2 separate regions of the Homo sapiens genome follow, and region 1 is linked to region 2. Evidence: fine-mapped expression QTL. Tissue or cell type: whole blood. Region 2 holds a variant in brackets; the other region holds the start of a gene. All regions are shown on one strand. Distances are from middle to middle.

Region 1 (2,930 bases), 23 kb before region 2:
GCACTTTGGGAGGCCGAGGTGGGCAGATCACGAGGTCAGGAAATCGAGACCATCCTGGCTAACACGATGAAACCCTGTCTCTACTAAAAATACAAAAAATTAGCCGAGTGTGGTGGTGGGCACCTGTAGTCCCAGCTATTTGGGAGGCTGAGGCAGGAGAATGGCATGAATCTGGGAGGCCAAGCTTACAGTGAGCCAAGATCGCACTATTGCACTCCAGCCTGGGTGACAGTGCAAGACTACAACTCAAAAAAAAAAAAAAAAGAATGGCAATTACATTTCAACATGAGTTTTGGTGGAGAGATTCAAACCAGAGCAGACATTAATAATATACATATATATTATGTGCATTGTTATGTTAAAATTGAATAGCCATTTATGTTTAGAGAACAAACCTACCAAAATTGTCCATTTTAGTAGGGCCCATTTTTCTAACCAAATACCATGGATTAAAAGCTGAATTTAAGAAGAGAAAGAATCTTAAAAAGTTGTTAAGCAAGGTTAAATCTAGTTTTTCTTTCTCACACAGACTCTGCTTGTGACTGTTTCTTGGATAATTGGCACCTTGTGAAATAATCGCTAATAATAGTTATCTTTTAGTGGATTCCTGGCACCGCCCTCAGCTGAGCGCTGTAAGTATATTATTACATTTAATCCTCTCAACCATCTTATGGGATCGATATTATTAGCTCATTTCACAGAGGAGAAAGTTGAGGCTTAAAGAGGTGATGTAATTTTGTCCAAACTAAACAGCTGGTAGGTTGAGGAGTCAGGGTTCCAATCCACTCTCTCAGAATCTGTAGCCACCTGCTCTTAGTCACTGCTGTGTGTCAGTCTCCCTTGGCACTAGATACAATGGTGATTAGGGTAGCATAATGAGCCTTTTGGACTGCTTGCAAACCATGAACTACTGCATCTTTGAGTTTTAAGGGCTTAGCTTAGGACTAGGGGATATGCATGGAAGCCCAAATCATAGGTGTCCTTTATCTGTGGGATCAAAGTTTGTCACTCAGCATCCTGAACATTGTGTGCCTTTAAACAAGGCAAATCTGATACCATAATTTGGACAACAACTTAGCCAAAGCATCATTTCTGTATATGGAGGCCAAGTAGTACTAACAAACATGCAAATTCTAATTTTAAAACTCAGACAAACATTTTACAGCTAAAACAATCCACCCCCTTTTGGCTAAATAACTGAACAAAATTTCCCCTACAAAGGCAAAGTTCAATATTTTCATTTCTGTAAAACTCTGACCCATGTCACTTTTCATCAGTGCTGCACTATCTGTGAAGTCCCCTTCTAACCTAGAAGAGTTAGCTTCCTCCCTAACATACTTGGAGAAAGATTTGGGCATACCGCAGCATTTCATTTCCTCTTTGTCTAGCTTGATGATAACTCGTCACTTTTCAAACTGTGAAGATGAAATCAGGAGAAGAGTGTGAAATATCAGTATAACAATGGCCACTTCCCACCCCATGAGACAAAGAAGTGAAAGGCTTAGTGATTTGTATGATGATGAGCACTACAGAAAACATTCAAAGCTTCTAAATCCCAGGGATTTCCTGACTTCAGTTGTGAGGGCCAGCCACACTGACATCATAGATCCTTCCTGCAGTCACAATGCTACTAAGTCACCCTTGGGAAGAGGCCCCAGAAACAGGAAGACCTTAGTTAGGATGCAATTACAATTCCTTGGTACATTGGCTTCCTCAGAAAAAAGAAAAAAATCACAGAGATTGTTTTTCAAAAATATCAAATCTACAAAAAATAAAGCTGGAAAAGCAAGCATCATGAGTTCAGGTACTTATGGACTATTCGAGGTCTCTAAATTTCTCCTACTTCACTATCTTTCTTCTGTTTCTTATTACATATAAACAAAATAATGAATCCCAATGAAGACCCTCAGAAGGCTTGGGCACAACAGAGTAATAACTTAAACAAATGTACAAGAAAAAAAAACCCCATCAAAAAGTGGGCAAAGGATGTGAACAGACACTTCTCAAAAGAAGACATTTATGCAGCCAAAACATACGAGAAAAAGCTCATCATCACTTGTCATTACAGAAATGCAAATCAAAACTACAATGAGATACCATCTCATGCCAGTTAGAATAGTAACCATTAAAAAGTCAGGAAACAACAGATGCTGGGGAGGATGTGGAGAAATAGGAACGCTTTTATACTGTTGGTGGGAGTGTAAATTAGTTCAACCATGTGGAAGACAGTGAGGTGATTCCTCAAGGATCTAGAACTAGAAATACCATTTGATCCAGCAATCCCATTAATGGGTATATACCCAAAGGACTATAAATCATTCTACTATAAAGACACATGCACACGTATGTTTATTGCAGCACTGTTCACAATAGCAAAGACTTGGAACCAACCCAAATGCCCATCAATGATAGACTGGATAAAGAAAATGCCGCACATATACACCATGGAATACTATGCAGCCATAAAAAAGGATGAGTTCATGTCCCTTTGCAGGGACATGGATGAAGCTGGAAACCATCATTCTCAGCAAACTAACACAGGAACGGAAAACCAAACACCACATGTTCTCACTCACAAGTGGGAGTTGAACAATGAGAACACATGGACACAGGGAGGGGAACATCACACACTGGGGCCTGTTGGGGGTTGGGGGCTAGAGGAGGAATAGTATTAGGAGAAATACCTAATGTAGATGATGGGCTGATGGGTGCAGCAAACCACCATGGCACGTGTATACCTACGTAACAAACCTGCATGTTCTGCACGTGTATCCCAGGACTTAAAGTATAATTTAAAAAAAATACATTCCTGATTATTTTAGAGCTGTCTGATCCTAAAAAAGTTTCTAAAGGTCTTATAGAAGTATCTGTAAAGAAATGCTCTTCTAGCTAACTATAGATGTTATGGGGGGATGGGGGAGAATTGGGAT
Region 2 (2,930 bases):
ACTTAATTCCAAATCTGTCATGGTTTGGGGATTCTACTAAAATCCATTTTCTTCTGCAAAGTCCACCAAATCTTCAAATAAATGTTTATAAAGTGCTTTACTTTTTCCAGTCATTAATATATAAAGAAGCAGGTAAGTTCAAGAATGTTTGGATCCAACTGGGGCATGATGGCATACAGTTGATAAGAAAGATGGGGACGATTTTCAAAGTGTCATTCCTCAGCCAAAGTGAAGGATGCACTAGGTTGTCTATGTTAGATTTAGTGGCAAATATAGGAAGTCTATCTTCTTTGACAGTCAAATCCCAAACTAAGAATATTTCATCACTCAATGAGTTTCAGAACACTGGAGGAACCTCTATATCGGCAAGCATCTTTGGTTCAGAATGTTGCTCAGCTTGTGGAATTCTTTTTATTCTCTGATGAAGAGTGTTTTTTGAAGGCAAGCATGGCACTATGTGTGAAGGGGCAGAAGTCATACATGATTGAATCATTTGACAGGGGACATTTGTTATATTTTTCACCTGTGTTTTTACTTTTTCTATGATTTTCGAAACACTCAAAACATTGAGAATAGATCTTTCTCACGTTGTGCACTCAGACTCACACACTAATCTCCTCTGGAAACACCCTCACAAGATACACTGCTACACCAGGTTCTAGGTATCCCTTAATCCAGTCAAGGGATTTTAAACTTTAGGAATTTCAATGTTTGAGATTATGTCTTTTGGGATTATGATTGGTACCATTCATGAACTAATTTCCTTAACTATGAAATTAGAATAATTCTGTTAGACAATATGAAAATGTACAATGTGAATCTCTAAGGGAGAGACATCATATGCAAGGTTTTCTAAGTGTATTTGATCATAGAATTCTTTTGTGGTGGCCTATCCTCCTGACTCCTATTCCAGGACTCACACCTTGGAAAACTCTCTAACACAGTCACTTTTGCATCTTTATAGTTATAAAAACTTAATTTTTTCTACGTTAAAGTAGAATTTTCATAAGGGGTATATAAAGGCGTCAGTCTTGGAAGAAGGCTTCTAACATCTTCTTTCATGAATGCCTCTACCCACTCCTAACTACCACCAATTGGCTTGAAGCATGAAAAGTGCATCTGCTTCTTAGATGAGACCTTCACCAAATTCTAACCATGGCAAGTGCTTAAAATCCTATCAAACTTCTCACAGGGCAAAAATAAAGGATCAGAAGTGAGGATTCTAGTTCTGGTTCCTGGCTCCTCCAGCTCATTCTTGTAATGCCCTGGTGTTTCCTTTTCCTTTTTCTGATCAGGAGTCATGCTTTTCTCCCCATCATTCCAAACACCCAGAGAGGTCAGCTAGAAGACAGACTGAACAACCAGGCGCGTACCATAGCTTTCCTTCTTGAACAAGCCTTCCGCATCAAGGAGGACATCTCTGCTTGCCTG[C/T]AGGGGACCCATGGCTTTCGAAAAGAGGAATCGCTCGCCAGGAAGTTACTGGAAAGCCACATCCAGACCATCACCAGCATCGTCAAAAAACTCAGCCAAAATATTGAGGTAGTTCTCTTTTTGTTTTATTTTGTTTTTGTTTTGTATTTTGGCAGCATTGCTTGATAAAGATTATCAACCATCAGTGTCATTTTTCAAGTGCAGAAATATATCACTATTGCTTAAGTTTAGATGATTACATTTTAGTGGTCTAAGAGGGAAACAGTTCAATTTTTCAGCTGTTCATTTATGCCAAAAAGTAGAAGGAACTTCTATTCAAAAAATATTTACTGTATATTTATTTTGTGACAACAAAGACATTATGTCAGACATTGTGCTAAGATGCTTATGTTAGCCTAAATCTCCAAGATTCTATTAATGCAATAACTTCAAATAGAGGTTTTCATAATGCACATCAGTAACGCTCCATTGTATAGCCATTGCAATCTGATGCCAGCAATTTCTCTAGCCCCGTCTTCTACCCTTCTTTCCTTCACTCTGGCCACACTGGCCTCCCAGCTGTTCCTAGGACATTCCAAACACATTCTGGCCTTGGGGTCTTTGCACTCATAATTCACTCTGGCTGGATCATCTTCCCCTAGATATTCCTATGCAACGTGCTTCATTCCTCCAGGTTTCTGTTCAAATATAGCCTCGTAACAGAGGATTTGCATGACATTTTATAAAATAGCACCTCTACCCACATGGTTTCAATCTCCCTTAAAGCCTACTTTATTTTTTTTGTCACATAGCACTCATTGCAAACTACCATGGTCTATATTTGATTCCTGTTTGTTTTCTCTTTCTAAGATATAATCTCTATAAAGTCAAAGAGTTTGTTTTCTTCATGCTAAATCCCATATCCCATACCAGACAACAGTGGTGTTGTAGTCAGCACTCTAAATATTCCTTAAATTGATGAATGAATAAATTAATTAATTTTAAGGCATTAGAGTAAAAATAGAGTTTCTCATCAAAAAAAGAAAATTCTTTGTCTAAATCAAGAGAAACATGCTTGTGTAAGAGGTCTTCGAGAGTTGCTAGGGTGCAGATGTACGTGATGAATCTGGGTTAACAATTTTCATGCAAGGGCTACAGATAGTGTACTTTAGGAAACTGGCCCAAAACTTGTGGAGTTATCATGAGAATTGACAACAATGCAGTCTCACGATACTTGTCCTTTTCTACTATCAAAGAGAATACTGGATTTTATTAAAATTATGGGATTGAACCAGCAATTACTCCTTTGTGAATTTGTTCTTAAGGGCAAGGATATTGATTAATTCATTTTCCATCTGCAGGGTTTAACAGACCCCATAATGTACCTGAGGCAGTGTGAAAAGTTAAAACTCTCAGTGAACTTTTAAAAAGCACTTTATTGGTATTTAGCACATTTTGAATTGACCTCAGTGCTTCAAAGGTCAATGCCACTCTCAAAGTGATTAAAGGTATTTCCATGC

What was found.
Region 1: it holds the start of FAM81B, and the variant in region 2 is fine-mapped to the expression of FAM81B in whole blood (INTERVAL, PIP above 0.99). The same link has a PIP of 0.9 or more in blood mononuclear cells.

Annotation. Positions count from the first base shown.
Region 1 is chr5:95,389,710-95,392,639 of GRCh38, forward strand. FAM81B (family with sequence similarity 81 member B) reads left to right here and starts at 1,657. Exons shown (of 10, transcript NM_152548.3): 1 at 1,657-1,804. The coding sequence starts at 1,681. It overlaps LOC105379089 (a long non-coding RNA gene), which reads right to left and starts at 1,463. Exons shown (of 3, transcript XR_948586.1): 1 at 1,361-1,463. RefSeq lists an enhancer at 2,817-2,930.
Region 2 is chr5:95,412,652-95,415,581 of GRCh38, forward strand. FAM81B (family with sequence similarity 81 member B) reads left to right here. Exons shown (of 10, transcript NM_152548.3): 4 at 1,296-1,539. Among named protein-coding and RNA genes, the nearest start is that of FAM81B, 23 kb to the left of the region's middle. The variant C/T (reference allele first, on the strand shown) is at 1,432.